Regions from separate parts of the Homo sapiens genome. Here regions 1, 3 and 4 are each linked to region 2. Evidence: fine-mapped expression QTL. A gene starts in region 2. Each other region holds a variant in brackets. All regions are shown on one strand. Distances are from middle to middle. Region 1 overlaps PTPRS (protein tyrosine phosphatase receptor type S). Region 2 holds the start of PLIN3 (perilipin 3). Region 3 overlaps UHRF1 (ubiquitin like with PHD and ring finger domains 1). Region 4 overlaps ARRDC5 (arrestin domain containing 5).

Region 1 (8,135 bases), 340 kb after region 2:
TATCCTTGCATTCCATAAATCTGTCTGAGTCATAACATTGTATTCTTTTAATGAGATGTTAGATTTCCATTGCTGAAATTTTCTTGGCCTTTTTGCATCTAGGCACATAAGTGGAATGTGCTTTTTTCCTCCTTAGTTTGTCCTCGTACAGTTTAGGTACCATCTCTTTTTTCACCTCATAAGCTGACAGTTGACAAAAGGTGCAAATCATCTCTTCCTTGCGGATTTGGCAAAACTCACTTGGAAAACTATCTGGGAAGGTGCCTTGTATGGGGCATAGATCTTTACTATCACTTCACTATTTTCTTTCTCTCTCTCTCTTTTTTTTTTTTTTTTTTTTTTTGAGAAAGGTCTCTCCATCACCCAGGCTAGAGTACAGTGGAATGATCACAGTTCACTGCAGCCTTGATTTCCTGGGCTCAGGTGATTTTTCCACTTCAGCCTGCAGAGTAGCTGGGACTACAGGTGTGTGCTACCATGCCTGGCTAATTTTTTGTATTTTTGGTAGAGATGGAGCTTTGCCATGTTGCCCAGGCTGATCTTGAACTCCTGGGCTCAAGTGATCCGCCCACCTCAGCCCCCAAAGTGCTGGGATTACAGGCATGCACCACCACACCCTGCTAATGTTTGTATTTTTGGTAGAGATGGGATTTCACAATGTTGGCCAGGCTGGTCTTGAACCCCTGACCTCAGGTGATCCACCTGCCCCAACCTCCCAAAGTGCTTGGATTATAGGTGTGAGCCACTGCACCCAGCTTCCCCATCTTTTTCTCTCTTCACTGTCTGTTCTTACAACTATCCTATGGAGGGAGAGAAGGGGATTTTTTGCATACCAGTTCTGCTACCGGTAGCCTCCACTGCCCCTGTCTGTTTCCTCCTTGGCTCTCCCAATACTCATCTTACCAAAAAAAAGAAAAAAAAAAGGTTTCATCTCTAAAGTGTTCTATCCCCACTTTTCTGATATTATTTGTACTTTCTCTTTTTTATTATCTTTGCCTAAGGTTTTTGGAGTTTTCAAAGAAAAGGTTTTTGATCTTGTCAATGCAAAAGAGCCATATCAAAATGCCCAATTAAGAGTTATTTCCAGGCTGGGTGCAGGGGCGCACGCCTGTAATCCCAGCACTTTGGGAGGCCAAGGCGGGTGGATTACCTGAGGTCAGGAGTTCACCACCAGTCTGACTAACATGGTGAAACCCCATCTCTACTAAATACAAAAAAAATAGCCGGGCATGGTGATGGGTGCCTGTAATCCAAACTACCTGGGAGGCTGAGACAGGAGAATCACTCTTACCTGGCAGGTAGAGGTTGCAGTGAGCCGAGATCCACCATTGCACCCCAGCCTGGGCAACAAGAGTGAAACTCTTGTCTCAAAAAAAAAAAAAAAAAAAAGTTATTTCCATCTTTATCTTCATTTTTTTTTATTTGGGGTTTTTTTTTCTATTTGAGTTTATTTTCTAGTGATTTGATTGAAAACTTGGTTCATGAACTTTTTAAAGTTGACTTATTTTCAAAATTTCTTTTCTTATAAGTGTGTTAAAGAGGCCAGGCACAGTGGCTGGTGCCGGTAATCCCAGCACTTTGGGAGGCTGAGGTAGTAAGATTGTTTAAAGCCAGGAGTTCAAGACCAGCCTAAGCAACAAAGTGAGACCCTCCTACCTCAAAATAAAAAAAGGGTAAATGTGTTCAAGGCTATGAATTTTTCTCTGAGCACACCATTGGCTGCATCCCGCAGGTTATGCATTTCATGATGTACTATTTGAATTGTTCAATTTGAAACACTTTGTAACTTTCACATTGATTTTTTTTTTTTCAGAGGCAGTGTTTCCCTATGTTCACCCCAAAGTGCTGGGATGATAGGCATGAGTCACTGCGCCCGGATTACATTGATTTAACACATACCTTATTTAGAAATGTGTTTTAAGGCTGGGCACGGTGGCTAACACCTGTAATTCCAACACTTCGGTGGGAGGCCGAGGTGGGCGAATTACTTGAGGTCAGGAGTCTGAGACCAGCCTGGCCAACATGGTGAAACCCTGTAACCCTGTCTCTACTAAAAATACAAAAAAAAAAAAAAATTAGCTGGGTGTGGTGGTGGGCGCCTGTAGTGCTACATACTCAGGAGGCTGAGGCAGGAGAATCGCTTGAACCTGGGAGATGGAGGTTGCAGTGAGCTGAGATTCAGCCACTCCAGCCTGGGCAACAGAGCGAGACTCTGTCCCCCACCCACCTCCCCGCCAAAAAAAGTATTTTAAAATTTCCCTCCCCCTTCCAGGGGAGGCTAATTACTCTTCAGAGCCAAGATCAGGATACCTCATCTAATATTTGTTTCTTGGAATTTGTGAAGATCTCTGTTAATATTTTTTGTTTGTTTTTTTGAGATGAAGTCTTGCTCTGTCACCTGGGCTGGGGTGTAGAGGCGCGATCTCAGCTCACCGCAACCTCCTTCCTCCTGGGTTCAAGCGATTCTCCTGCCTCAGCCCACTGAGTAGCTGGGATTACAAGCGTGTGCCACCATACCCAGCTAATGTTTTTTATTTTTAGTAGAGACGGGGGGTTTCACCATGTTGGCCAAGCTGGTCTTGAACTCCTGACTTCAGGTAATCCTCCTGCCTCGGCCTCCCAAAGTGCTAAGATTACAGGCGTGAGCCACTGCACCCAGCCGATCTCTGTTAATTTTCACAAATGTTCCATGTGCGTTTGAGAATGTTAGAGTAGGAGGGGATAATAGGGTTTGTTAAATATTTTTGGCCAAGCTTATTAATGATGTTAGTCACATCTGTATTTTTTTGACTACCTGATCTGTTGCTTCTTTTTTTTTTTTTTTTTTTTTTTTTTTGAGACGGAGTCTTGCTCTGTCACCCAGGCTGGAGTACAGTGGTATGGTCTTGGCTCACTGCAACCTCTGCCTCCCAGGTTCAAGGGATTCTCCTGCCTCAGCCTCCCAAGTAGCTGAGAATACAGGCTCCTGCCACCATGCCCGGCTAGTTTTTTGTACTTTTAGTAGAGACGGTGTTTCACCATGTTGGCCAGGATGGTCTCCATCTCCTGACCTCGTGATCTGCCCGCCTCAGCCTCCCAAAGTGCTGGGATTATAGGCGTGAGCCACTGCGCCCGGCCTTGATCTGTTGGTTTCTAAGAGACATAGTCCTATTCTTCCCTGAGCTGGGTCCCTGGTGTCACTAAGATCACCCCTTCTCATTCCTGGAACTTCCCTGAGGTCATAGGGGGCTCTTTCATCCTATCTCTGGCTCCTGTGGGTGGCTTCTATGCCCAAGCAAGAAGTGACTCAGGCAAGGGTATAGATACAAAATGGCTCACTCTCCATCCCCAGGGATGTGATTCTGGCTCAGTGCATGGATCTGCTCATTGAGTGGCCTAGGGGTGGAGCAGAGTGTCCCCAACCTGTTGCTTCCCTCCACGGACTCAGTTCTTCCCCAGGGCACTTCGAGAAGGCAGCACCGTGTGATGCTCAGGGCTGCGGGTGAGATGGGCTGGGGTACGAATCCCAGCTCCACCTCAAACTCATTGTGTGCCCCTCCCTGAGCCTCAGTTTCCTAATATGTAAATGGGGATTTTTTTTTTTTTTTTTTTTTTTTTGGAGATGGGAGTCTCATTCTGTCGCCCAGGCTGGAGTGCAATGGCATGATCTCAGCTCACTGCAACCTCCGCCTCCTGGGTTCAAGTGATTCTCCTGCTCCAGCCTCCTGAGTAGCTGAGATTACAGGCAGGTGCCACCATGCTTGGCTAATTTTTGTGTTTTTAGCAGAGACAGGGTTTTGCCATGTCGGCTAGGCTGGTCTCGAACTCCCGATCTCAGGTGATCCATCTGCCTCGGCCTCCCAACGTGTTGGGATTACAGGCGTGAGCCACCGCGCCTGGCCAAGGGGCTGGTAACTTCTATCTCAGAGTGTCTGGCCCATGGTGAATTCTCAGTCATGGTCACTTATTAGAATGAGAACACGAGGCAGCCCCTACAGGACCAGGGCTTGGGTTCAAATCTTGGCCTGGCCACTTCATCGGTGTTTTGAGTTTTTTTTTTTTTTTTTTTTTTGAGACAGTCTTACTCTGTCACCCAGGTTGGAGTGCAATGGCATGATCTCAGCTCACTGCAACCTCTAACTCCTGGGTTCAAGCGATTCTCCTGCCTCAGCCTCCTGAGTAACTGGGATTACAGGCGCCCGCCACTGCGCCTGGCTAATTTTTGTATTTTTAGTAGAGTTGAGTTTCACCATGTTGGCCAGGCTGGGTTTCACCATGTTGGCCAGGCTGGTCTCAAACTCCTGACCTTGTGATCCACCCGCCTCAGCGGTGTGTGGTCTTGGACAAGCACCACCACCTCTCTGGGCCAACTCCTCCTCTGACTGTTCACACAAGGAAACGAGATCAGCTCTCCAGGACCCCACCGACCTCCACCCCAGGGATGAAACTGGACAGGCAGGGGCGCAACAAAGACTCCACAATGGGCCGGGGTCAGACGATCTTCCTTTAATACAAAGTCGATATATCTACATACACGGGGGTGGGAAAACCACCCGGCTGCTTCCGCTGGAATAAACAGTGTTGAAAGTAACCGCAGACCTGCCCTTGTACAAAGAGGAACAACTCGCTT[G/C]CTCAGGGTAGGCGGGTAGAGGGGGGCCTGTCCTTCTGGTTTTGCTCCCAAACTGCCCCACAGTCCCAGGGGGAAAGGGTCCCTGATGTGGGGCAGCACAGCCATACAGCCACTGTCCCCGAAGAAGTAGGATCCTCTCTGTCTCCTTGGGGGCGGGAGACGGGGAGACAGCTCAGGCTCTCAGAGGAGGACCACTGTCATCTCTCTCCTCTTACAGCAGCGTCCCCCTCAACCGCACCCAACGCCACTGGGTCCGAGCTCCCCCATGACCTTACCCTCAGAACTGTATTTGATATGTCTGAAAATTTAATTTATAAAAATGAAACAAAAAGGGGGAAAAAAAAAGCCAAGAAAGAAAAAAGGACATCCCATTCTTCTGTGAGCAAAGCACACTTTCTGATGGTAGGAAAAATTAAAAAAAAAAAAAAAAAAAAAAAAGCCAAGGTACAGCCATGGGCCTGGCGTGCGCGTTTGCGAACGTAACTATCACACAAGGACGCTTTCTACAGTGAAAAAATAGACTGTCTTTGAACAGAATATGAATAAGCCAAAGTTAGTTCTCTTTGAAAGTCATTGACTGGCGAGTCTTTTGTTTGTTTCTCTTAAAAAAAAAAATGGAAAAAAAAATACACTATTTAAAAAAAATGAAATGTCACGGGATACAGTTACACTGAGAGTTTTAAAAGAAAGCTGGATTCTGGTCCCAGCCCAGTGTCCCCAGGCTGCAGAGCGGGGAGGAGCCCCCCGGGTCCCCCTACCACCGCTGGGGGAGGACGAGGGGTCCGTCTATGGTCTGTGCCCCACCCTCCTCTGGTTCTGGGGAGCACTCCTATTTGCTCACCATCCCCCCACCCCCCACCCCGGAATCTGGTTTTGGAATTGGAAGGAAAGGAGGAATGTGCCAAGTATTTGAAGGCGGCGGCCGGTGCCAGGGAGGTCGCTGGGGCGGCCGGGGCCGGTGGGGGGGCTCGAGGGGCTGCGTCGTCCTCGGAAATGGTGCAGAAACACAGCTGCTGCCGCTGCCACCTCCTGCCCTGCCCACTGGGGGTCCAGGCCTCAGGAGGTCCGCCCGGGAGGGGCAGAGGCATCCGGGGCCAGTGGTGTCGGGCCTGGGGGGAACCATGGCTTTAGGTTGCATAGTGGTCAAAGCTTCCGAGGTACTCCAGTGCCGCCTGGTAACAGAACTGGTACTCATCCTGGGGGAGCAGAGGTGACCTGTTAGTACCTCCGCTGCTCTAACGCCTCCCAGGGCTCCCTATCGCCCTCAGGAGCAGGCCAAGCTCCTCAGCCTTGTGCGTGTCTCTTGCAGAAGGTCTCTTTGGCCCCCACGGCCCTCCCACAATGAAGTGAGCTATGCCACACCTCTCTGCCTAACACAGCCAGGCTCTTCACCCGGAACGCCCTCTCCTCCCGTCTGCCTGGAGGCCCTATTCATCTTTTCTTTTTTATTTATTTTGAGACGGAGTCTCGCTGTGTTGCCCAGGCTGGAGTGCAGTGGCGCCATCTTGGCTCCCTGCAACCTCTGTCTCCTGGGTTCAAGTGATTCTCCTGCCTGAGCCTCCCAAGTAGCTGGGATGACAGGCGTGTACCACCATGCCCAGCTGATTTTTGTATTTTTAGTAGAGACAGGGTTTCGCCATGTTGGCCAGGCTGGTCTCAAACTCCTGACCTCGGGTGATCTGCCTGCCTTGGCCTCCCAAAGTGCTGGGATTACAGGCATAAGCCACCACACCCAGCCTCATTTCTATTTTTTTTGTAGAGATGGGGTCTTTCTGTGTTGCCCAGGATGGGCTCAAGCGATCCTCCCACCTCAGCCTCCCAAAGTGCTGGGATTACAGGTGTGAGCTGCCACGCCGGGTCCCCTCTACTCATCTTTTAAGACATGGCTGCTGTTCAGAACCCCCTCCACTGGAACATTCCCCTTGAAGCTAGGAGTCTGGGCCTCAGTTTCCCCATCTGTACATTGGTTGGACTTGGGGGTCAGTGGTTCTTGGCAGGGTCCAGGCTGAGCCACAGACTTGCTGTGACTTGGGGACTGCAATGAGCCCATCTCTGTCCACTCCAAGGGCCACTTCTCGCCTTTGACCTTCAGCTGACTGTTGTGTTAAAAGGGTTACTGGTCCCCTTCCAGTGCGGGAGGGGTCTGTGGACCGTCTACCCACAGTGACCCAGAGAGTCCCAGGTGGCTGTACCCATCTCACAGAGGAGGAAACTGGAGCTTAGGGGCAGTCGGGGCGTGAGGCCAGGCTGCCTCCCCTCCCTGTCCCATCTTTACCTCTGTCTGCACCATGGCCGGCCGCTGGGTTCGTAGCATCTTCACCGTCTGAAAGATGTCCACCACGCCTTCATACCGCATCCGCTCCAGCACGATGCTAAGCGTGATGAAGACGCCCGTCCTGCCCACGCCGGCACTGGTGGCAGTAAAGTGAGCACAGCCATTCAGGGGCAGGTGCTGGGGAGCCCTGATCTGACCACCCGATTCCCCGAGGACTCTAACAGCCCAGATGGGACAGCCTAAGCTTGGGGCTGTCCCCACCAGGCCTCAGTTTCCCCAGCAGGGCCAAAAGCTGGGACACTCGAGGGAGCTCACCTGCAGTGGACAGAGATGGGGCCGTCCTGGCCAAACTGCTCCTTAGTCTTATGCACTTGGCCAATGAAGTCGATGAAGCCCTCCCCCGACTTTGGCACACCCTGTTCCGGCCAGTCTGTGAACTGGAACTGCCGGACAGTCCGGGACTGGCCATCCTAGAGTGCAGAGAGCCCAATCTTGTTATCAGGTCAGCAGCGGCCATGGGGGTTTTTCTCCATCCTCCCTATCTTCACCCCCATTTTTTGTTTGTTTGTTTGTTTTTGAGATGGAGTTTCACTCTTGTCGCCCAGGTTGGAGTGCAATGGCGTGATCTCGGCTCACTGCAACCTCCACCTCCAGTGATTCAAGTAATTCTCCTGCCTCAGCCTCCCGATTAGCTGGGATTACAGGCATGAGCCACCAGGCCCGGCCCTCACCCCCATTTTGTACACTCTCTGCCATTCATTTACCCTGACAACTTACCGTCCTTCACAATCCAATGGTACTGCTTTCCATAAGAGATGCTCCAACCTCATCCTCACCACTTCTTGCCACCCAGCTGTTCCTCTCCCCACATTTCCTGTATGACATCCAGCACCTCCATCCTCCATCCTTTGCCATCCCATAGTGCAACCAGCTCTGCCCTTCCCAGCTCCTATTCACCATGATCCTCTGTCATCTTCCACTCTGTGCCATTTCGGGGCCCTACAGCACAACTCAACTCCATCACTGTCCATAGCTCATCAATGATGACTCATCTTCTACAACCCAATGGTGCCATCATCTTTCATCGTCCACCATCCAACACCATCATCTTCCACCATCCAATAACAGTGCCACTGCTACCACCCACTGCTGGTAACTCACTACCTTCTGCCGTCCCGAGTTCCACCCAACACCATCATCTTCCATCATCCACCACCATCCCCTCTTGGTAACTCATCCTTAACCATTCAG
Region 2 (8,135 bases):
TGTTGCCCAGGTTGGTCTTGAACTCCTGAGCTCAAGGGATCTGCCCACCTTGGCCTCCCAAACTGCTAGGATTACAGCTGTGAGCCACCGCACCCAGCCAAAATTTAGGCTTTTTTTAAAAAGTGAGATAACATGCCTGCCTGCACCGCAGAGCTATGAAGTCCAGGTCAGGGGTGTGGGGAGGACGGGGTTCCCCAGGTGAGTCTATGTAAGCGGGATGAAGCCACAACTCCCTTTTCCTGGACTAGTGAAATGAAGCTGGGACACCATCATCAGAAGAGATTCTCAGGGGGAAGCCAGGAGTCCCAGCTCCACCTACGCTATGCTCCCTGGAGCAAGGCGCCTTCCCCTCCTCTGGCCTCGGTCATCTTACCTGTAATATGAGGCTAAAGGGTCGGGCATGGTGGCTCACACCTGTAATCCCAGCACGCTGGGAGGCTGAGGTGGGTGGATCATGAGGTCAGGAGTTCAAGAGCAGCCTGGCCAACATACTGAAACACTGTCTCTACTAAAAATACAAAAATTAGGTGCGGGTGTGGTGGCGGGCGCCTGTAGTCCCAGCTACTTGGGAGACTGAGGCAGGGGAATTGCTTCAACCTGGGAGGCGGAGGTTGCAGTAAGCCAAGACTGCGCCACTACACTCCAGCCTGGGTGACAGAGGAAGACTCCATCTCAAAGAAAAAAGAAAAAGCCAGGCATGGTAGCTCACGCCTGTAATCCCAGCACTTTGGGAGGCTGAGGCGGGCAGATCACCTAAGGTCGGGAGTTTGAGACCAGCCTGACCAACATGGTGAAACCCCATCTCTACTAAAAATACAAAAATTAGCCGTGTATTTTGGCTGACACCTGTAGTCCCAGCTACACAGGAGGCTGAGGCAGGAGAATTGCTTGAACCTGGGAGGTGGAGGTTGCAGTGAGTCGAGATCGCACCACTGCACTCCAGCCCGGGTGACAGAGGGAGACTCCGTTTCAAAAAAAAAAAAACATGGGGCTAAAGGTCATGCCTGTCTTATGGGCTGCTTTCCTGGGGAATTCTGGTGTGAGCCTAAGAACCTGTGGCCTTGAGTCTGAGCATCTTTTCCCAGAGGAATGAGGCCCCACCTCCTGGTGGCCTTGCTTCGATGTCCCCTAAGCAGAACCCAGCAAAATGATGATGTTTTGCAAGCACTAGATCTGGAGTCCAGATTGGGTTCTTTCCATTTTTTTTTTTTTGTTTTTTTTTTTGAGACGGAGTCTCGCCCTGTCGCCCACGCTGGAGTGCAGTGGCGCGATCTCAGCTCACTGCAAGCTCTGCCTCCCCGGTTCACGCCATTCTCCTGCCTCAGCCTCCCGAGTAGCTGGGACCACAGGCGCCCGCCACCACGCCTGGCTAATTGTTTGTATTTTTAGTAGAGATGGGATTTCACCATGTTAGCCAGGATCGTCTCGATCTCCTGACCTCATGATCCGCCCGCCTCGGCCTCCGAAAATGCTGGGATTACAGGCGTGAGCCACCATGCCCGGCCTTTTTTTTTTTTTGAGACAGAGTCTTGCTCTGTCGCCCAGGCTGGAATGCAGTGGCGTGATCTCAGTTCAGTGTAACCTCCATCTCCCAGGTTCAAGCGATTCTCCTGCCTCAGCCTCCAGAGTATCTGGGAATACAGGTGCCCGCCACCACGTCCGGCTAATTTTTATATTTTTAGTAGAGGTGGGGTTTCACCATGTTGGCCAGGCTGTTCTCCAACTCCTGACCTCAAATGATCCGCCCACCTCAGCCTCCCAAAGTGCTGGGATTATAGGCGTGAGTCATCCTGCCCAGCCCAGAATGGGTTCTAATCCCAGCTTGGCAACTCACTAGGAATAGGAGTTTGGGAAGGCAGCATCCCCTAGGAGTCTTGCTTGCCACATCTGTGAAATGTGTATAAGTGTTTCACAAGAGCCTGGAGTCCCTGTGGACTGGAGGAGACGCTGCTCCGGGGAAGCTCAGATCCGTGCCCGGCACATAGTAAGTGCTCCATAAACTATCTCACCGCACTCTGGCTTCCACGGACAAAGGGGTAAAGCCAGCCAGGAACCAGCTTCCTGCTAGGTACAAAAGTCCCCCAACTGGGAAGTCAGGTGAGAAGACATACCTACCTCCCAGTGATCATTGCCTAAATCTGTGCTTCTCCTCACCTCCTTTGGAGCCTGAGCTCACCTGGGCAGGGGGCCAGGTAGGCAGGCATCAAACTCCTGGCCTCGACCGATTCTCAAGTCCCACTTAGGACTCAGGCAGCTTCCTCCCGTCCCCTCTGTCCACCATGACTTCCTGGAACTGGTTTAAGCAAGGGTGGCCATGGCAGATGTCAACACCCTATGAAACCCCTGGGGGTCAGTGACCTGCCTTGCCGCTGGCTCCAGAAGGGGAGCTCCAGGCCAGACCCAGCCATCCAGCAACTTCAGAGCATGCTAAGACTGGACTTCCAAAATTCCAAGGGCCCCAGGTCCCACTGCCAGGCCTAGCCGGGACAAGAACCCCAAAGCAGTTAACGGATAGGCCTTCCTACTTTTAAGCCACCTCGTCGCCACGCCCACCCGAGGGAAGTGGGCAGGCTTTGCCCAAGACCTCCCCAGAATCAGTTGGGGGCGCCAGGAGCTGGGGCAACCCCCACCCCCACCCGTGGCAAAACCATCTGTAGGGGAGGGGGCTTTGCGGTGGCGGGGGGTGTCTCTGAAAACCCCAGAAGGGAGGGCGGAGATTCTGCCCGCAGGAGGAAACTTGCCTGCAAATGGCGTTTCCAAAAGCAAACTGTTCAAAATTTAGAGAAAACCTGGTGGGCGGGGGGCGGTATTTAGCCCACCCCCTTCAATATCACCCCTTCTACGGGGCTCTTTCGCCCCTCAAAAGTCCCAGGAAGTGAGAAGAGGGTTTCAAAGTCTGAGCTTCGTTGCAGAAGTTGGATTTTTCTGGGGGGAGGGGTGACCAGCCTGGGCTGAAGACCCCTCCCCAGGCCGCAGAGTCCAGCAAATCCCACCCCGAGAAAGGCCCTCCCCGACCCCTCCGGCCCCTGGGGTGCCCCAGGACTCCATGGACACCGCCCCCCAGCTCAACTGAGACGCCCCCGCCACTCACCGCGGTCAACCGGACGTCCCAGGAACAGCTGCCGCGACTTCAAAACCAGCTTGGAAACCGTCCGGGCCGAGGCGGGGGTGGCTTTTACTGCGTGGTAGGTTGGGGGCGCACTGGAGTGACGGGCGAGGGGACCAATCAGGTTGAGGGATTGCCCGCGCCAGGCCCGCCCCTCTCCTCCCTGCCCCGCCTCCACTAGGCCCCGCCCCTCGCCAAGTCATGAAGTCCGGGAAGGACTCCACGCCCTGCCCCTGAAGGGGAGGGAGCACTCTTGGACCACGCCTGTCCCAGCCACGGGACCCCCGCTCCGCAGCTGGGGACCCTGTGAAGTTGGCCCTGGGAGGTGAGTGCGATCGGGGGCGCCGCACAGGTGCTGGGATTCCCCAGGTCGCCCATTTCCCCTATGGCCAAACTGAGGCTGCGAGAACCCTGGGAGAGTTGCAGGGTGACCCTCGCCAGCGCGTCAGGGGCCACGCCCTCCACCATGGGCTCCGACTCAGCTATATGTACACACACACACACACACACACACACACACTTTTTTTTTTTTTTTGAGACACAGTCTCGCTCTGTCGCTAAGGCTGGAGTGCAGTGACGCGACCTTGGCTCACTGCAGCCTCCACCTCCTGGATTCAAGCGATTCTCCTGCCTCAGCCTCCTGAGTAGCTGGGATTACAGACACGTGCCACCACGCCCGGCTAATTTTTTGTATTTTTAGCAGAGACGGGGTTTCACCATGTTGGTCTTGAACTCCTGACCTCAAGTGATCTGCCCGCTTGGGCCTCCCAAATTGCTGGGATCACAGGTATGAGCCACCGCACCCGGCCCAACCCAGCTATATGAGTGACTTGAACCACCACGGGAACTTGTCCAGCCTCCGGCCTGATCTGCCCAACATCAGACCACTTCATCCTCCCAGCACTGTATTGTCTTTTTAATCATCCCTATTTTGCAGAGAAGGAAACTGAGGCCTGGAGAGGGTCAGCCAGGGGCAATGGAGGGGTCAGGCTCCAGGCTCTGTGACTGCTGGATCAACCTTTTCCTGAAGCTGCCCCCACTTGGATTTTACCCCGCCCCTCTCCACCTCCCAAATTATTTATCCTCTTGGTCTATAAACCAAGGTCTCAATCTCAGATGGTCCAGGGAGGAGGTGAATATTTCTGCTGAGGAGGTGGCAGTGATGCCCTGCTTAGAGGGGCAGGGGAGAGCAGTGCCCTATGGGAGACCCACCTGGAGAGTCACAGATCCACAGGAAGTTCAAGCTGTAGACATGTCCTGCCTGTTAGGGAACAATTGGACCAAATGAAACCCAACTGGGGCTTTGTCCAGCCCAGGGGCCACCAGTTTGCCACCTCTGCCAAATTATTTGAATAGAATGAAGCTTCTGGTAGCTTTAGAAAGAACATGGGAAAAATTGGGTGTCTGTGACTGCATTTTTTTGGGGGGGTGAGTGGGGACAGGGTCTATGCTAGCACTGTCCAATAGAACTTTCTGCAATTCTAGAATTGTGTGCCATCCAACATTGTAGCCAAAAGCACCACGTGGCTAATGCACAGTGAGAAGCTGAATGTTTAAATTTTTTTTTTTTTTTTGAGGCAGAGTCTCGCTCTGTCTCCCAGGCTGGAGTGCAATGGCGCGATCTCGACTCACTACAACCTCCACCTCCCGGGTTCAAGCGGTTCTCCTGCCTCAGCCTCCCAAGTAGCTGGGATTACAGGCGCGCGCCACCACACCCAGCTAATTTTTGTATTTTTAGTAGAGACGAGGACTAACCATATTGGCCAGGCTGGTCTCGAACTCCTGGCCTCAAGTGATCCACCTGCCTCGGCCTCCTAAAGTGCTGGGATTACAGGTGTGAGCTACCGCGCTTGGCCTGAATGTTTAAATTTAAGTAACTTCAGGCAGCTAGTGAGATTCTCAAGTGAATCTGAGACCCCATTCCATGACATTTGTAACAGGCTTTTTCCTTCTCATTCACTCATTCAACCATATTTATTGAGTCCTTGCGCTGGGGACAGCGGTGAGCTAAACAGATAAGAATTCCAGCCCTGGTGACACACACTACCCAGTGGGAGAGACGAACAAGGAACAACATAAGTGAGAGAACTTTACAATGTGTCACGTGGTAGGACAGCAAAGGACGAGATGAATGTGGGGGATGCGGGGATTTTGTTCTTGTTTTTTGTCAAAGAGTCTCACTCTGTCACCCAGGCTGGAGTGCAGTGGCACGATCTCGGCTCACTGCAACCTCCGCCTCCCAGGTTCAAGAAATTCTTGTTCCTCGACCTCCCAAGTGGCTGGGATTACAGGCCTGTGCCACCATGCCTGGCCAATTTTTGTATTTTTTTTTTTTTTAGTAGAGACGGGGCTTCACCATGTTGGCCAGGCTGGTCTCGAACTCCTGACCTCATGTGATCCACCAGCCCTGGCCTCTCAAGGTGCTGGGTTATAGGCATGAGCCACCACACCCGGTGGGGCCGCAGTTTTTAGTAGGGAGGTCAGAGGAGGCCTTTCTGAGTGACATCCAAGAAGAGAAGAGAGAGAGGCCAGGAGGGAACCATGTCCAGTTAGGGGGAACAGCATTCCAGGCAGCAGGCACAGTCCGTGCAAAGGCCCTGAGGCAGGACCACACCCTGCCTGTTAGAACAGTGAGGAGGCCCCAGTGGCTGGAGTACAGTGAGTGAGAGAGAGGGAGGAGGGGAGGGCTGGGATGGCTCAGAGAGGGGAAGTGACTCATCCAAGATTCAAGGTCAGTGGGAGATTTGCCTGTTAACCCTTAACTTCTTAGTGGCCTTGAGTAACAAAATAGCTCTGGTCTAGGGGATGAGCCCTGGTGATTTTGCCCCACACCGTTTTTTGTTGTTTTTTTTTTTTGAGACAGAGTCATCTCCCAGGCTTTTGGTTCTTCTTGATGGCAACATCTGCCCAGGAGTCCCCGCCTGGCCTCCCACAGCCCTAGGGTGAGAGGTAAGAAATAGCTACTGTTGGCTGGGCGCAGTGGCTCACGCCTATAATCCCAGCACTTTGGGAGGCCGAGGTGGGCGGATCACCTGAGGTCGGGAGTTTGAGACCAGCCTGACCAACATGGAGAAACCCCGTCCCTACTAAAAATACAAAATTAGCCAGGTGCGGTGGCGCATGCCTGTAATCCCAGCTAGTCAGGAGGCTGAGGCAGGAGAATCACTTGAACCTGGGAGGCAGATGTTGCAGTGAGCCAGATTGTGCCATTGCACTCCAGCCTGGGCAACAAGAGTGAAACTCTGTTTCAAAAAAAAAAAAAAAGAAAAGAAAAGAAAAAAAGAAATAGCTACTGTTGGCCGGTGGCTCACACCGGTAATCCCAGCACTTTGGGAAGCCAAGGCGGACAGATCACTTGAGCTCAGGAGTTCAAGACCAGCCTGGCCAATATGGCAAAATCCTGTCTCTACCAAAAATACAAAATTAACCGGGTATGGTGACGCATGCCTGTAATCCCAGCTTCTCCACAGGCTGAGGTGGAAGGATCGCTTGAGACTGGAGGGGTGGAGGTTGCAGTGAGCCAAGATTGCACCACTGCACTGCAGCCTGGGTAGCAGAGCAAGACCCTGTCTCAAAACCAAAAATGAGATAGCTGCTGTTTTCTGGGCTATTTCATTACATTATTCAGCAGCCTGATTCCCATTTTCTTTTATTATTTATTTATTTATTTATTTTCGAGATGGAGTTCTGCTCTGTCGCCCAGGCTAGAGTGTAGCCGTACGATCTCGGCTCACTGCAACCTCTGCCTCCCGGTTTCCAGCAATTCTCTGCCTCAGCCTCCCAAGTAGCTGGGATTACAGGAGCCCACCACCACGCCTGGCTAATTTTTTGAATTTTTAGTAGAGATGGGGTTTCACCATGTTGGCCAGGCTGATCTTGAACTCCTGACCTCGAGATCCACCCGCCTCTGCCTCCCAAAGTGTTGGGATTACAGGCGTGAGCCACAGCACGTGGCGCTATTTATTTATTTACTTCTTCTTATTATTATTATTTGAGTCGGAGTCTTGCTCTGTCACCCAGGCTGGAGTGCAGTGGCGCGATCTCAGCTTACTGAAAGCTCCGCCTCCCGGGTTCACGCCATTCTCCTGCCTCAGCCTCCCGAGTAGCTGGGACTACAGGCGCGTGCCACCACACCCAGCTAATTTTTGTATTTTTAGTAGAGATGAGGTTTCTCCATGTTGACCAGGCTGCTCTCAAACTCCTGACCTAAAGTGATCCGCCCACCTCAGCCTGCCAAGGTAAACCAACTGTGATTTCTGTTTTCTGGATCAGGAAACTAAGGATCAGAGAGGCAGAGTAACTTGCCCCAGGTCACACAGCCAGAAATTGCCAGCCCCAGGGTTTGAACCTTGAGTTATGTGTCTTTAAGGTCTTTGGTTTCTGTTTGTTTTGGGGTTTTTTTGTTTTGTTTTGTTTTTGAGAGAGTCTCACTTCGTCTGGAAGTGAGGCTGGAGTGCAGCGGTGGGATCTCAGCTCACTGCAACCTCCGCTTTCCAGGTTCAAGCAATTCTCCTGCCTCAGCCTCCTGAGTAGCTGGGATTACAGGTATGCGCCACCACACCCGGCTAATTTTTGTATTTTTAGTACAGACAGGGTTTTGCCATGTGGGCCAGGCTGGTCTCGAACTCCTGACCTCAGGTGATCCACCCACCTCTGCCTCCCAAAGTGCTGGGATTACAGGCATGAGCCACTGCGCCCAGCAGGTCTTTGTTTTTGACATTTTCTACTCTTTCTCTTCTTTCCTTCCCTCTGCATCCCCTCCCAATTCTAGGACTCCTAATTCTTTCTTTTTTTTTTTTTTTTTTTTTTTTTTTTTTTTTGAGACGGAGTCTCGCTCTGTCACCCAGACTGGAGTGCGGTGGCTGGATCTCTGCTCACTGCAAGCTCTGCCTCCCGGGTTCACACCATTCTCCTGCCTTAGGCTCCCAAGTAGCTGGGACTACAGGCGCCCGCCACCAAGCCCGGCTAATTTTTTGTATTTTTAGTAGAGACAGGGTTTCACCATGTTAACCAGGATGGTCTCAATTTC
Region 3 (8,000 bases), 83 kb after region 2:
CAGGTGCTTGCCACCTCGCCTGGCTAATTTTTGTATTTTTAGTAGAGATGGGGTTTTGCCATGTTGGCCAGGCTGGTCTCGAACTCCTGACCTCAGGTGATCTTCCCTCCTCGGCCTCCCAATATTGGTATTACAGGCATGAGCCACTGCGCCTGGCTGATAGTAGGTATCTTAATGCTGGGCCTGGTGGCTCACGCCTGTAATTCTCGCGCTTCAGGAGGCCGAGGCTCGAGGATACCTTGAGTTCAGGAGTTCAAGACCAGCCTGGGCAAGGTAGTGAGACAACCCATCTACAAAAAGTAAAAATAAAAAAATTAGCTGGGTGTGTTAGCATGTGCCTATAGTCACAGCTAGTCAGGAGGCTGAGGCAGGAGGATCACTTGAGCCCAGGAGGTTGAGGCCGCAGTGGGCTGAGATTGCACCACTGCACTCCAGCTTGAGCAACAGACTGAGATCTTGTCAAAAAAAAAAAAAAAAAAACCCCTCCAAAATAGATTGCTTCAGCTATGCAGGTCACACAGTCTATTCAGAGAACCTCTTCAGCTCTTGTGTCGTAGCACAAAATCAGCCATAGACCATATGTAAGTGAGTGAGCATGGCTGTGTTTCAGTGAATTTTATTTGCAAAAGTATGTGATAGGCCAGAATTTGCTTGGCCCCTGATTACAGGATGGGGGCGGACTTTTCCAGCATAAAAACCATCATAAAGCCCAAAGGAAAAGACAGATTTGATTATCTAAACATTATAAATATATTACATAAATAAATCCTATAAATTAAAAGGCAGATGACTAGGAGGAGTTCTTGACATGACACATGATGATAGTGTCTTTATCATATAAAGAGCTGTTGCAAATCAACAAGAAACTCATAGAAGAGCTGGGTGCGGTGGCTCACGCCTGTAATCCCAGCACTTTGAGAGGCCGAGGTAGGTGGTGGATCACCTGAGGTCAGGAGTTCAAGACTAGCCTGGCCAACATGGTGAAACCCTGTCTCTACTAAAAATACAAAAATTAGCTGGGTGTGGTGGCAGGCACCTGTAATCCCAGCTACTTGGGAGGCTGAGGCAGAATTGCTTGAACCCAGGAGGCGGAGGATGCAGTGAGCCGAAATCATGCCATTGCACTCTTGCACTCTAGCCTGGGTAACAGGAGTGAGACTCTATCTCAAGAAAGAAAGAAACTCGTAGAAGAAAGCAAAGAGGCCAGGCGTGGTGGCTCACGCCTGTAATCCCAGCACTTTGGGAGGCTGAGGTGGGCGGATCACGATGTCAGGAGATCGAAACCATCCTGGCTAACATGGTGAAACCCCATCTCTACTAAGAATACAAAAAAAAAAAAAAAAAAAAAGCCTGGTATGGTGACAAGTGCCTATAGTCCCAGCTACTCGGGAGGCTGAGGCAGGAGAATGTCATGAACCTGGGAGGCGGAGCTTGCAGTGAGCCAAGATTGCTCCACTGCACTCCAGCCTGGGTGACAGAGCAAAAAAAAAAAAAGAGAATATGGAAATAATGCACAAAAGAAGTGCAAAGTTGTAATCAAATACAAACTGAGGCTGTGGTGAGATACTATTTGTTTCCCCTATAAAGTTGGCCAAAAATTCTAAAATGTTGACATAGGTCAGGGGTAAAATAGCATTCCACTGTTGGTAGAAATACAAATTGGAACCATCTTTCTGGAAATCTCTTCTGCCTGTTTGTATGAAGAGCTTTATAAATGATCTATTCTTGTCACTCTAACTCCGCTTTGAAAAATGTCTTTAGGAGACCTCTGGCTAGGTAAAAATGTAAGATGTAATGTTTTTCATACCATTATCTAAAACAATTGGCACATAGACACACACACACACACACACACACACACACACTCTCACAAAGTCAGTAACTAAGTACCTAAAAAAGACATGGGCCATGGGTGGTGTGTCACATGCCTGTCGTTCCAGTACTTTGGGAGGCTGAGGTGGGAGGATTGCTTGAGGCTAGGAGTTTGAGACCTACTTGTGCAACATAAAATTATGAAAAATTAAAATTACAAAAAAGAATTTCAAAAAAGTTAGCTGGTTATGGTCGTGTGGGCCTATAGTCCCAGCTTGGGAGCCGGAGGTGGGAGGATGGCTTGAGCCCAGGAGGCTGCAGTGAGTAAGGCGTGATCATGCCATTGCATTCCAGCCTGGGTGACAGAGTGAGACACCCTTTCTCTTTTTGTTTGTTTTTTTTTTATATGTGTGTGTGCTTTGTTTTGTTTTTTTTGAGGCAGGGTCTCCCTCTCTTGTCCAGGGTGGAGTGCAGCAGTGTGATCGTAGCTCATTGTAGCCTCCACCTCCTTGGGCTCCACTGATCCTCCCACCTCAGCCTCCAGAGTAGCTGGGACTATAGGTGCATGTTACCACGCCTGGCTATTTTTTTTTTTTTTTGTGGAGATGGGGTTTTGCCACGTTGGCCAGGCTGGTCTTGAACTCCTGGGCTCAGGCAATCCTCCTGCCTTGGCCTCCCAGAGTACTGGGATTAGAGGCGTGAGCCACGGCACCTAGCAACCCTGTCTCAAATAAATAGTAGGCTGGGTGTGGCCTATTTTATAAATTATACATATATAACTTTGAAATATTAAATTTTTTTTTTTTTTTGAGACAGAACCTCACTCTGTCACCCAGGCTGGAGTGCAGTGGCATAATCTCGGCTCACTGCAACCTCTGCCTCCCAGACTCAAGCGATTCTCCTGCCTCAGCCTCCTGAGTAGCTGGAATTACAGGCACGCGCCACCACGCCCGGCTAACTTTTGCATTTTTAGCAGAGACGGGGTTTCACCATGTTGGCCAGGCTGGTCTCGAACTCCTGACTTCAGGCGATCTGCCTACTTCAGCCTCCCAAAGTGCTGGGATTACAGGCCTGAGCCACCACTCCCGGCTCCTGTGTTTCCTTTTTTGGGGGGTACATCCTCACCTATAATGCGTGGGGTCCTGACTCTCCCTGCAGGGCGCTGGCTCTCAACTGCTTTGCTCCCATCAATGACCAAGAAGGGGCCGAGGCCAAGGACTGGCGGTCGGGGAAGCCGGTCAGGGTGGTGCGCAATGTCAAGGGTGGCAAGAATAGCAAGTACGCCCCCGCTGAGGGCAACCGCTA[C/T]GATGGCATCTACAAGGTGAGTGCCCCTTGAGGAGGCCGGGGGCTCTGTCCCCGCCGGGGCTGCCTCTGATGGAGCTGACGCTGATGCCCGCTCTCTGCAGGTTGTGAAATACTGGCCCGAGAAGGGGAAGTCCGGGTTTCTCGTGTGGCGCTACCTTCTGCGGAGGGACGATGATGAGCCTGGCCCTTGGACGAAGGAGGGGAAGGACCGGATCAAGAAGCTGGGGCTGACCATGCAGGTGTGTCTGGGATGGGGGATGGCACTTTGGGAGGCCAAGGCGGATGGATCACTTACGTTAGGAGTTCAAGACCAGCCTGGCCAACATGGTGAAACCTCATCTCTACTAAAAATACAAAAATTAGCTGGGTATGGTGGCGGGTGCCTGTAATCCCAGCTACTGAGGTGGCTGAGGCAGGAGAATTGCTTGAACCCAGAAGGTGGAGGTTATAATGAGCTGAGATTGCGCCACTGCACTGCAGCCTGGGTGACAGAATGAGAGTCCATCTCAAAACAGGAGCACTGCCGGGCTCCATGACGGCTCTGACACTTCCCGCCTGGGCACCATGTGTCCTGCTTGGAGGCTGTCATCCTTGAAGGTCATTGTGGGTCACAGAATGGGCCCTGCCTGGGCTTGTGGTGCTCATGTTCTGGACCGCGCTGAACACTCCAGGAGGCCTCCCGTCTCGGGCCCATGCTTCCCTGGTTTCTCTCTGATCCAGAATAATTTCCAGGGCCCCAGCTGATGGCACCCCCCTAGCTGTCCCATATAAATCCTCCAGCCAGGGGGTGATGGGAACGCGCAGATGACATTTGCTTCTCCGCCTGCCGCATCTCAGAGTTGAAAACCAGACTTGCTTGTCTTCGTTCTGTTGGTAAAGGGATCGCTGCAGACCAGTCAGGCATCTGGTGTCTTCTGTTTTCACTTCTTGGCTCATCACAAAAAAAAAAAAAAAAAAGCAGAAACAAACCAACCAAATTGGTGGATTCCAGAGAGATCTGGACGGAAAAATGGGGAAGATGAATATCCCCGAGCCATCTCTCACCTCCCTGTGGCGATGGGAACTGCCGAGAACTTACTCAACAAGCGGCGCAGCATTTCAGCACCAGTTAGGATGTGGTCTGTCCATTGCAGGGAGAAGCTTTACAGCAGACGAATCGTGAGACTATTTAAGGAATCTTAATTGCTGTCGAGAGCCTGATGTCCTCTACCCGAGGGGGTCACTCAGGTTGTCTTTTGAATGGATTTGTACGGTGGGGAATTTCAGAAGCTGAGGAAGTAGAGAGAAAAATAGTAATGGGAGAGACAGCCTCAGCTTCTGTTGGGAGTAGGATTTTTTTTGTTTGTTTGTTTTGAGATGGAGTCTTGCTCTGTCGCCCAGGCTGGAGTGCAGTGGTGGGATCTCGGCTCTCTGCAACCTCTGCCTCCCAGGTTCAAGCCATACTCCTGCCTCAGCCTCCTGAGTAGCTGGGATTACAGGTGCCCACCACCACGCCTGGCTCAGTTTTTGTATTTTTAGTAGAGACGGGGTTTCACCATGTTGGTCAGGCTGGTCTTGAACTCCTGACCTCAGGTGATCCACCCGCCTCTGCCTCCCAAAGTGCTGGGATTACAGGCGTAAGCCACCGCTCCCAGCCTTTTTTTTTTTTTTTTTTTGGAGACAGAGTCTCACTCTGTCGCCCAGGCTGGAGTGCAGGCATGATCTCGGCTCATTGCAACCTCCACCTCCCAGGCTCAAGCGACTCTCTCATCTCAGCCTCCTGCATAGCTGGGATCACAGGTGTGTACCACCATGCCCAGCTATTTTTGTATTTCTAGTAGAGACGGGGTTTCGCCATGTTGGCCAGGCTGGTGACCTCAGGTGATCCACCTGCTTCCACCTCCCAAAGTGCTGGGATTACAGGTGTGAGCCGCTGACCCTGGCCAGGATTTTTTTTTTTTTTATGACTCTCATCTCCATTGTAACATAAAGAATGTGAAAGGAGCTCAAAGATTTCCTGAGACACTGGAGAGTCAGACGTGACTTATAGGTACCTTCGAAATGGAGCGATGATGCCCTGTGAGGACAGAGAGGGCCCGAGTCCTCAGAATCACCAGAGTTTGGCCAGCTAAGGCCCTGGGGTCAGGTGTTCGTAAGTGAAGTTTCTGGGGAAACAGTCATGCTCATTCACTGAAGTAGCCTGCTCTCAGCGCTTGCAGTCCAGACCCATAAGGCTTGAAAACATTCACCCTAGGGTCCCTGGAAGCAAAAGTTTGCCTGCCCTCATGGAAATCGTAAAGACAACGAGATCTTATTGGTGGGATGTGATGCTGAACACGTCACCCGCGTTCGCTCACATTAAATGCGCTTACCCCGACCCTGCCAGGTGGAGCTTGGCCGATTATCTCCTCTTAGTCTCCTCTTGTTCGTAGTGAAGCTTTGCGATTAGACAGGATTAGCCATTGGTCGAGGCTCCACAGTTAACGAAGAGCTGAATGCACAGGCGTCCCCCCCTTACCAGGGGGACACTTCGAAGGTCCTCAGCACATGCTTGAAACCAGAGAGTACCAAACCGTTGATGTATAATTTTTTTTCCATACGTTTGGACTGGTGATTAAGTTTAATCTATAAATTAGGCACAGTATGAGATTCACAACCTCTCTTTCGCATCTTAGGCTTCTCTTTAGCATTTCCAAATTGTCAGCATCCCTACTCTTGCACTTTGGGGCCATTATTTTTATTTTTGAGACCAGGTCTCGCTCTGTTGTCCAGGCTGGAGTGTAGTGGTGTGATCATAGCTCACTACAGCCTCAAACTCCTGGGCTCAAGTGATTCTCCTGCCTCAGGCTCCTAAGTAGCTGGGACTACAGATGCACACCACCAGGCTCGGCTAATTTTTTAAATTTTTTTGTAGAGAGGGGATCTTGCTATGTTGCCCAGGCTGGTCTCAAACTCCTGGGCTCAAGCGATCCCCCTGCCTTGGCTTCCCAAAGTGTTGGGCTTATTTAATAAAAATTAGAATGTTTAATATTAATATTTTATATTTAGCCTGTAATCCCAGCATTTTGGATGACTGAGGCAGGTGGATCACTTGAGGTCAGGAGTTCAAGACCAGCCTGGCCAACATGGTGAAGCCCCATCTCTACTAAAAATACAAAAATTAGCTGGGTGTGGTGGCGGGCACCTGTAATCCCAGCTACTCGGGAGGCTGAGGCAGGAGAATCGAGAAGCTGGACAAAGGGAAGGTTCACATCCCTGTGGGACGATGCAATGTTTCATCATGCAGTGTGCGTGATGTGAGGTGGCTGTAAAGGGGGAGGAAGGGGCCCCGAGCCGAGGGATGCAGCGCCTCTAGACGTTGGACACTTAGAACAGTGTGCAGTTTACAACTTAGGAATTGTTTCTAGAATATTTCATGTAACATTTTCAGTTGACTTTGGGTCACTGAAACCTCAGCAAAACTAGATAAGGGAGGACTACCCTGTGCTCTTCAGGGGGATTGGGGGTCAGGTGTGTCTGGAAACCCAGACCTGGCAAGGAGGCTGGAAGAGCGGGCTCTGCATAGCGTGTGGGCCCCAAGCCTGACTCACGGCTGTCCCTCTTCCTCCTGAAGTATCCAGAAGGCTACCTGGAAGCCCTGGCCAACCGAGAGCGAGAGAAGGAGAACAGCAAGAGGGAGGAGGAGGAGCAGCAGGAGGGGGGCTTCGCGTCCCCCAGGACGGGCAAGGGCAAGTGGAAGCGGAAGTCGGCAGGTGAGAATCTCGTGGGTGTGGGGTGAGCGTCTTGTGTGTGGGGGAGCAGGTGGGCATCTCGCGGGTGTGGGGTTGAGGTCGTGTGGACGTGGGAGCCGGTGGCTGTCTCTCCGGCAGCTCGGGCCACGCGCCCCTCCCTCACGCGCCCCACCCTCTTCCAGGAGGTGGCCCGAGCAGGGCCGGGTCCCCGCGCCGGACATCCAAGAAAACCAAGGTGGAGCCCTACAGTCTCACGGCCCAGCAGAGCAGCCTCATCAGAGAGGACAAGAGCAACGCCAAGCTGTGGAATGAGGTCCTGGCGTCACTCAAGGACCGGCCGGCGAGCGGCAGCCCGGTAGGCTCGCACGGCTCACTCGTCGCCCTGATTTGCGTTGACTGCGGTAAAATGTGTGGGGCTTGTTTCCCATGTTCCCCATTTTCAAGTGTACAGCTCAGTCGCACTGAGTACATTCTTGTGGTTGTGCAACCATCACCACCATCACCACCTCCAGAACTTTATCCTCTCCCCAGACTGAAACCCTGGCCCTGAAACTGTCACTCCCACCCCCTCCCAAGCCTTGGCACTCGCTCCCCAGCCCCGGCAACTGCTCCCCAGCCCCTGCACCCGCTCCCCAGCTCCGGCACCCCCTGCCATCCTACCTTCTGTCTCTGTCTCCCGGGGCTGTTGCAAAGTGACCCCAAGCCTAGGAGTGCAAAGCGACTCACATCTCACAGCTCTGGGGCTGGGAGCCCGACATGGGCCTTGCTGGGCTAAAGTCAGGGCAGGGATAGGGCTGGGCCCTCCTGGGGGCTCCAGGGGAGAACCAGATTTCTGCCTTTCCCAAGGTCTAGAGGCACTGTATCCCTCGGCTCGGGGCCCCTTCCTCCCCCTTTACAGCCACAGCGCATCTTCTTCCAGTCTCTGAGTCTCACTCTCCCGCCCTCTCTCGGGAGGACCTCGGGGTGACATCAGGCCCCCCGCCTCACCCAGGATGCTTTCCCAGCTCCAGGTCCTTCACTCAGTCCCACCTGCCATTTCTCCTCTGCTGTGGATGGTGACGTCTCAGGATGGTGCAGGTCTCAGGATTCAGCTGTGGCCGAGGCCATCTCAGTGGTCCCTCTCTTCCCATTTCCTTCAGGCCACATTCTTCCCAGGGCTTTCTCCCCAGCTCC
Region 4 (8,135 bases), 29 kb after region 2:
TCTCAAAAATAAATATATATATTATAATAATATAATATATATTATATTATTAGAATATATATAATATATTATTATATATAATATATTATAATAATATAACATATTATATATATATTATATATATATAGCCAGGCGCAGTGGCTCACACCTGTAATCCCAGCACTTTGGGGGGCCGAGGCAGGAGGATCACCTGAGGTCAGGAATTTGAGACCAGCCTGGCCAGCGTGGTGAAACCCCATCTCTACTAAAAATACAAAAGTTGGCCGGGTGTGATGGCACGCAACTGTAATCCCAGCTACTCAGGAGGCTGAGGCAGGAGAATCACTTGAACCTGGGAGACTGAGGTTGCAGTGAGGCTGAGATCCAGCCCTGCACTCCAGCCTGAGCAACAGAGTGAGACTCTGTCTCAAAAAAAAAAAGAAAAGAAAAGAAAAGAAAATGCTTGTATTCCACCAAATGGATTTTTGCAACCCACGACTGGGTTGTGACCTGTGATTTGAAAAACATTGCTGGCTGGGCATGGTGGCTCATGCCTGTAATCCCAGCACTTTGGGGAGGCCAAGGGGGGAGGATCACTGGAGCCCAGAAGTTCAAGACCAGCCTGGGCAACATAGTGAGACCCTGTCTCCAAAAAAAAAAAAAAAAAAAAAAACCAAAAAGGAAGGCCGGGTGCGGTGGCTCACCCCTGTAATCCCAGCACTTTGGGAGGCCGAGGTGGGTGGATCACGAGGTCAGGAGATTGAGACCATCCAGGCTAACAGGGTGAAACCCCATCTCTACTAAAAATACAAAAAAAAAAAAATAGCCAGGCGTGGTGGTGGGCACCTGTAGTCCCAGCTACTTGGGAGGCTGAGGCAGGAGAATGGCGTGAACCCAGGAGGCAGAGGTTACAGTGAGCCGAGATAGCGCCACTACACTCCAGCCTGGGCGACAGAGCAAGACTCTGCCTAAAAAAAAAAAAAAAAGAGGAGAAGAAGAAGAAAGAAGAAGAAGAAGACAGCCGGTGCGGTGGCTCACGCCTGTAATCCCAGCACTTTGGGAGGCTGATGCGGGTGGATCACGAGGTCAGGAGATTGAGACCATCCTGGCTAACACGGTGAAACCCCGTCTCTAATAAAAAATACAAAAAATTGGCCGGGCGCGGTGGCTCACGCCTGTAATCCCAGCACTTTGGGAGGCCGAGGCGGGCGGATCACAAGGTCAGGAGATCGAGACCATCCCGGCTAAAACGGTGAAACCCCGTCTCTACTAAAAATACAAAAAATTAGCCGGGCGTAGTGGCAGGCGCCTGTAGTCCCAGCTACTTGGGAGGCTGAGGCAGGAGAATGGCGTGAACCCGGGAGGTGGAGCTTGCAGTGAGCCGAGATCCCGCCACTGCACTCCAGCCTGGGCGACAGAGCGAGACTCCGTCTCAAAAAAAAAAAAAAAAAAAAAAAATTAGCCGGGCATGGTGGTGGGTGCCTGTAGTCCCAGCTACTCGGGAGGCTGAGGCAGGAGAATGGCATGAACCTGGGAGGCAGAGCTTGCAGTGAGCCGAGATCGCGCCACTGCCCTCCAGCCTGGGCGACAGAATGAGACTGTCTCAAAAAAAAAAAAAAGAAGAAGAAGGAGAAGGAGAAGGAGAAGAAGAAGAAGAGGAAGAGGAAGAGGAAGAGGAAGAAGAAGAAGAAGAAGAAAATCATACTGCAGGAAGTCAGGTATGTTTCCTTTTTGAGAACTCAGGCAGACCCTTGACCCCCTCTGACCTCACCTCCCACTTTTCTGCCTCTGGCTTCTCTTCAGCCTTTTCAGGAGCAGCTGGAGCTCCCCCTCCTCTCCTGAAGGTTAATTGAATCTGGTTACATTGTAAATCCCTGCAGTCTTATTCGAAAATTCGTAGCATGCGTTAGGACCCTGCAGGTGTGAAAGAACCTGCTGCCCTAACTCCAGACAAAGCTGGTATTTCTGTCCTGGTCCTGAAGGAGGTATCAGGAGGTGCCAAGAGCTACCAATGTCCCTTATTTCCAAATGAGCTATTACATTTTTTTTTTAATAGCGGTACCGGCTAGGAGCGGTGGCTAACGCCTGTAATCCCAGCACTTTGGGAGGCCTAGGCAGGCGGATCACCTGAAGTCAGGAGTTTAAGACCAGCCTGGCCAACATGTGGAAACTCCGTCTTTACTAAAAAATACAAAAATTAGCTGGGCGTGGTGGTGGGTACTTCTCATCCCAGCTACTCGGGAGGATGAGGCAGGAGAGTCACTTGAAGCTGGGAGGCAGAGGTTGTATTGAGCCAAGATTGCGCCACTGCACTCCCGCCTGGGTGACAAAGTGAGACTCCGTCTCAAAAAAAAAAAAAAAAAAAAAAAAAGAAAGAAAGAAAAAGGAAAAAAAATGCCAGCCCTCTGACATTTGTCGTCCTGTCCCAATGCTCTGATGACAAATGACTCCCTGGAGATGTGAAGTGACTTTGGCCAACGTCCCTCCTCCCACCTCGACTTCCGCCTCTGCACCTGGACTCGGGAAGGGATCCAGAACGAGTCCTTCACTCAGCCAAGCGGAGGCTGCACTGCCCGTCCTTCTCCTGGACTGAGGCCACCACCTCTATTGTCTGGGAGCTCCAAGGTCAGTGCTGGAGGGCCACTGAGTGTACATGCCTCTCTCCCACCCTGAGGGTCACCCTGTGGGGCCTTTTCTTGGCTTTTCCCCAGGGTCGTGTCTCCCTCTTGACAAGTGGACATTTGGGCCATTCTCCTGGGTGGGGCCGTCCTGGGCACTGCAGGGTGCTGAGCAGCGCCCCTGGCCTCCACCCACTCCATGCCAGGAGCACCCCCCAAGTTGAGACAACCACAGATGTCTCCAGACATTGCCAAATGTCCCTTATGGGGATAAAACAGCCACAGTTGAAAACCACTGGCTTAGTTCCTGCCCTTGTTTCTTTTCTAAAAAAAATGTTGGCCTGGCATGGTGGCTCACGCCTGTAATCCCAGCACTTTGGGAGGCCAAGGCAGGCGGATCACCTGAGGTCGGGAGTTTGAGACCAGCCTTGCCAACATGGCGAAACCCTGTCTCTACTAAAAATACAAAAATTAGCTGGGCATGGTGGTGCACATCTGTAATCCCAGTTACTCAGGAGGCTGAGGCAGGAGAATCGCTTGAACCTGGGAGGCGGAGGTTACAGTGAGCCGAGATCATGCCTCTGCACTTCAGCCTGGTGACAGAGCGAGACTGCATCTCAAAAAAAAAAAAAAA[A/AT]ATATATATATATATATATATTTTTTTTTTTTTACACACACACACACACACACACACACACACACACACACACACACATATATATAATTTTATTTTAGAGACAGGGTCTCACTCTGTCGCCCAGGCTGGAGTGCAGTGGTGCAAACATGGCTTACTGCAGCCTTGACCTCCAGCTGCCCTAAGGTTTCTGACTCACCTTTTGTGAAATCTCGGGGCCTGGGAAGCTGCCAACACCCTTCCCTTCTCCCCATGGGACCTTCTCTGTCCCCTGCCTGCCCACCTTCCCTCTTCCTCCTTGGAGCTTGGAGATTGTTCCCACCTCCACCTTTCCCCCATCGGTACCTGGAATGGGGTTTCTTTGTGGAAGGTGGAAGTTCCTTGAACCAATAAGTACATCCTCTTCTTGGCTAAAATGTGTTCCCTGCCCATGCAGGAAGCTTGTACGAAATAGAAGACATGGCCAAATTTGCTGGTGAAGGTAGAAGGAAGCCTGGGAGGTAAGTTGAAATGGAAGTCAAAGGTGTGGCTGCCTGCACTTAACCAATTATCTGAAAGCAAAACACACCGATGCCATCAGAAGGTTCTAGAATCTTTTTTCCTTCTTCTTCTTTTTTTTTTTGCTTTATTTTTATATTTATTTATTTTTGAGACACGGTCTCACTCTGTCACCCAGTCTGGAGTATAGTGGTGTGATCTCAGCTCACAGCAACCTCTGCCTCCTAGGTTCAAGCGATTCTCCTGCCTCAGCCTCCTGAGTAGCTGCGACTACAGGCGTGCACCACCACACCTGGCTAATTTTTATATTTTTGACAGAGATGGGGTTCTGTCATGTTGTCCATCCTGGTCTTGAACTCCTGGCCTCCGGCGATCCGCCCGTCTTGCCCTCCCAAAGTGCTGGGGTTACAGGCGTGAGCCACTGCACCTGGCCTTTTTTTGCTTGATTTATTGTTTTGGCATGGAGGTGGGTCCTGGGCTTGGCTTGTCTGTCCCTCCTGAGTTAAACTGAGCTCTATGCTTTTAGGACCTGCTGGGCCTATAAATATCAGGTCGCAGCTGGGCTGGAGTGGGATGCCCTGGGGTGGGTGACATGCCTGGAGTTGTCACCCGAAACCACTGAAGGGCTCTTGCATATCCCTGCCCTGAGCCTGAGAAAGTGGAAGTCAGGCCTTCAGGGTTCAACAAATATATCTTTTTTTTTCTTTTTGTAGGGACAAAGTCTGGCTCTGTTGCTTAGGCTGCAGTGCAGTGGTGTGATCATGGTCACTGCAGCCTCCAACTCCTGAGATCAAGTGATTCTCCCACCTCAGCCTCCAGAAGAGCTGGGACTACAGGCCCATGCCACCATGCCTGGCTAATTTTTAAATTTCTGGTAGAGACAGGGTCTTGCTATGTTTCCCAGGCTGGTCTTGAACTTCTGGCCACAAGCAGTCCTCCTGCCTCACTCTCCCAAAAGTGCTGGGATAATAGGCACAAACTGGCTGGGCCCAGTGGCTCACGCCTGCAATCCCAGCACTTTGGGAGGCCAAGGCGGGCGGATCACCTGAGGTCAGGAGTTTGAGACCAAGCTGGCCAAAATGGCGAAACCCAATCTCTACTAAAAATACAAAAATTAGCCGGGTGTGGTGGCACACACCTGTAGTTCCAGGTACTCAGGAGGCTGAGGTGGGAGGATAGCTTGAACGTGCGAGACGGAGGTTGCAGTGAGCCGAGATCATGCCACTGTACTCCAGCCTGGGTGACAGAGCGAGACGCCATCTCTAAAAATAAATAAATAAATAAACAAAGTAGTATGTGAGGCAGAGAAAACTTTCGCCCTCATAGAGCTTGACCTTCAGTGCATGGTATACAGTGGGTGCTTAATACATATTGATTGACCAACTGAGTGATGGTCTAGGAAGCAGACTCTCACACAACTGCCATTTCCATGACCTTTGTTTCATTTTCCTTCTTGCACTTCTCGAAAATCCTCTTAGCATTTTCTATCTTCTCTGGCCCATGGCAATCCCAAAGATACTAGGGACCCTGTCTCTTTCTTTCTTTTTTGTTTTTTTGAGACAGAATCTCACTCTGTCACCCAGGCTGGAGTGCAGTGGCGTGATCCTGGCTCACTGCAACCTCCGCCTCCTAGGTTCAAGCAATTCTCCTGCCTCAGCCTCCTGAGTAGCTGGAATTACAGGTGTGTACCACCATGCCTGGCTAATTTTTGTATTTTTAGTAGAGATGGGGTTTCACCATGTTGGCCAGGCTGGTCTCGAACTCCTGACCTCAGATAATCCACCTGCCTTGGCCTCCCAAAGGGCTGGGATTACAGGCATAAGCCATCAGGCGGGCTTGGCCTTTTTTTTTTTTTTTGAGACAGGGTCTCACTTTGTCACTCAGCCTGGACCTCTTGGGCTCAAGTGATCCTCTTGCCTCAGCGCCCCAAGTAGCTGGGACTACAGGCGCGTGTCACCACACCTGGCTAATTTTTGTATTTTTCATAGAGATGGGGTTTTGCCATGTTGGTCAGGCTGGTCTTGAACTTGTGACCTCAGGAGATCTGCCCACCCAGCCTCCCAAAGTGCTGGGACTACAGGCGTGAGCCACCGTGCCCGGCCCAGGCTGTGTTTTTTTCATCACTGCTGCATCCCCAGCACCTAGCACGGTGTTTGTGCACAGTAGGCACTCAATAAATGTTTATTAAATAAATGAAAAACCTGGAACAGGCATGGTGGCTCACACTTGTCATCCCAGCACTTTGGGAGGCCGAGGCGGGCAGATCACGAGGTCAGGAGATCGAGACCATCCTGGCAAACACGGTGAAACCCCGTCTGTAATAAACAAAATACAAAAAATTAGCTGGGCGTGGTGGCGGGTGCCTGTAGTCCCAGCTACTCGGGAGGCCAAGGCAGGAGAATGGCGTGAACCCGGGAGGCGGAGCTTGCAGTGAGCCGAGATCGCGCCACTGCACTCCAGCCTGGGCGACAGAGTGAGACTCCATCTCAAAAAAAAAATGTTTATTAAATAAATGAAAAACCTGGGATGGGCATGGTGGCTCATGCCTGTAATCCCAGCACTTTGGGAGGCTGAGGTGGGGCAGATCACCTGAGGTCAAAAGTTTGAGACCAGCCTGGCCAACATGGTGAAACCCTGTGTCTACTAAAAATACAAAAAATTAGTAGGGCATAGTGGCATGCGCCTGTAATCCCAGCTATGCAGGAGGCTGGGGCAGGAGAATTGCTTGAACCCAGGAGGTGGAGGTTGCAGTGAGCTGAGATCACGCCATGGCACTCCAGCCTGGGTGCCAGAGTAAAGACTGTCTCTTAAAAAAAGAACTAGCGGCCGGGCGCGGTGGCTCACGCCTGTAATCCCAGCACTCTGGGAGGCCGAGGCGGGTGGATCATGAGGTCAGGAGATCGAGACCATCCTGGTTAACACGGTGAAACCCCGTCTCTACAAAAAAAAAAAAAAAAAAAAAAAAATTAGCCAGGCGTGGTGGCGGGCACCTGTAGTCCCAGCTACTCAGGAGGCTGAGGCAGGAGAATGGCGAGAACCCGGGAGGCGGAGCTTGCAGTGAGCCAAGATTGCACCACTGCACTCCACGCTGGGCGACAGAGGAGACTCCGTCTCCAAAAAAGTAAATAAATAAAAGAAAAGAAAACAACTAGCAACATTTTTTTTTTCTGAGACTGAATCTCACTCTGTTGCCCAGGCTGGAGTGCAGTGGTGCAATCTTGGCTCACTGCAACCTCCGTCTCCCTTGGCCTCCCAAAGTGCCGAGATTACAGGCATGAGCCACCGCGCCCGGCCAGCAGTCTTTTTTTTCTGTTTCTTTCTTTTTTTTTTTTTTTTTTTTTTGAGACGGAGTCTCGCTTTGTTGCCCAGGCTGGAGTGCAGTGGCGTGATCTCGGCTCACCGCAAGCTCCGCCTCCCGGGTTCACGCCATTCTTCTGCCTCAGCTTCTTGAGCAGCTGTATTTTTTGTATTTTTAGTAGAGACGGGGTTTCACCATGTTGGCCAGGCTGGTCTTGAACTCTTGTCCTCTGGTGATCTGCCCACCTTGGCCTCCCAAAGTGCTGGGATAACACGTGTGAGCCACTGTGCCTGGCCAGAAATAGCAATTTTTAAGCATTTACTGTATACCTGGCATTATTCTAAGCGCTTTATGTGCCATTAAATCATTAAGTCCTTAACACAATCTTATGAAATAGGACCTCTTCCTACTCCCATTTTATAGATTGGTTAACTGAGAGCCAGAGAGGTCACATAATTGCTCAGTATTAGTGTCTGGTAAGTTGACATTTGTCCCCAGGATATTTGCATGGCTGGAGTCCCTCCTATCACTCAGTTCTGTGCTTGGTTGTTCCCTCTTTGCAGAGTACTCCTCTGGTGGAACAGACCATCTCATCTAAATTTTTAAAGTCTAAAATGGCCAGGTGTGGTGGCTCATGCCTGTAATCCCAGCACTTTGGGAGGCCAAGGTGGGCGGATCACCTGAGGTCGGGAGTTCAAGACCAGCCTGACCAACATGGAGAAACTCCGTCTCTACTAAAAATACAAAATTAGCTGGGAGTGGTGGCACACGCCTGTAGTGCCAGCTACTCGGGAGGCTGAGGCGGGACAATCGGTTGAACCCAGGAGGTGGAGGTTGCAGTGAGCCAAGATTACGCCACTGCACTCCAGCCTGGGCAACGAGTGAGATTCAGTCTCAAAAAAAAAAAAAATTGCTAGTTCTTTTTTTAAGAGACAGTCGTTTGAACCCAGGAGGTTGCGGTGAGCCGAGATTGCGCCATTGCACTCCAGCCTGGGCAGCAAGAGCAAAACTCCGTCTCAAAAAAACGAAAACAAAAAATAAACAAAAATTAGCCAAGCATGGTGCCATGTGCCTGTGGTCTCAGCTACTCAGGAGGCTGAGGTGAGAGGAT

What was found.
Region 1: its variant is fine-mapped to the expression of PLIN3 in whole blood (TOPMed, PIP above 0.99).
Region 3: its variant is fine-mapped to the expression of PLIN3 in whole blood (TOPMed, PIP 0.94).
Region 4: its variant is fine-mapped to the expression of PLIN3 in whole blood (INTERVAL, PIP above 0.99).

What each region holds. Positions count from the first base shown.
Region 1 is chr19:5,201,038-5,209,172 of GRCh38, forward strand. It overlaps PTPRS (protein tyrosine phosphatase receptor type S), which reads right to left. Exons shown (of 38, transcript NM_002850.4): 36 at 7,200-7,354; 37 at 6,885-7,020; 38 at 4,471-5,805. The coding sequence ends at 5,737. Among named protein-coding and RNA genes, the nearest start is that of PTPRS-AS1, 27 kb to the left of the region's middle. The variant G/C (reference allele first, on the strand shown) is at 4,610.
Region 2 is chr19:4,864,518-4,872,652 of GRCh38, forward strand. PLIN3 (perilipin 3) reads right to left here and starts at 3,150. Exons shown (of 8, transcript NM_005817.5): 1 at 3,092-3,150. RefSeq lists enhancers at 2,118-2,467, 2,410-2,910, silencers at 3,128-3,307, 5,731-5,895, 5,772-5,851 and a cis regulatory region at 5,564-6,050.
Region 3 is chr19:4,947,641-4,955,640 of GRCh38, forward strand. UHRF1 (ubiquitin like with PHD and ring finger domains 1) reads left to right here. Exons shown (of 17, transcript NM_001048201.3): 12 at 2,971-3,133; 13 at 3,219-3,356; 14 at 6,710-6,848; 15 at 7,010-7,182. Among named protein-coding and RNA genes, the nearest start is that of KDM4B, 17 kb to the right of the region's middle. The variant C/T (reference allele first, on the strand shown) is at 3,118.
Region 4 is chr19:4,893,098-4,901,232 of GRCh38, forward strand. ARRDC5 (arrestin domain containing 5) reads right to left here. Exons shown (of 3, transcript NM_001080523.3): 2 at 3,574-3,779. Among named protein-coding and RNA genes, the nearest start is that of ARRDC5, 5.7 kb to the right of the region's middle. The variant A/AT (reference allele first, on the strand shown) is at 3,232.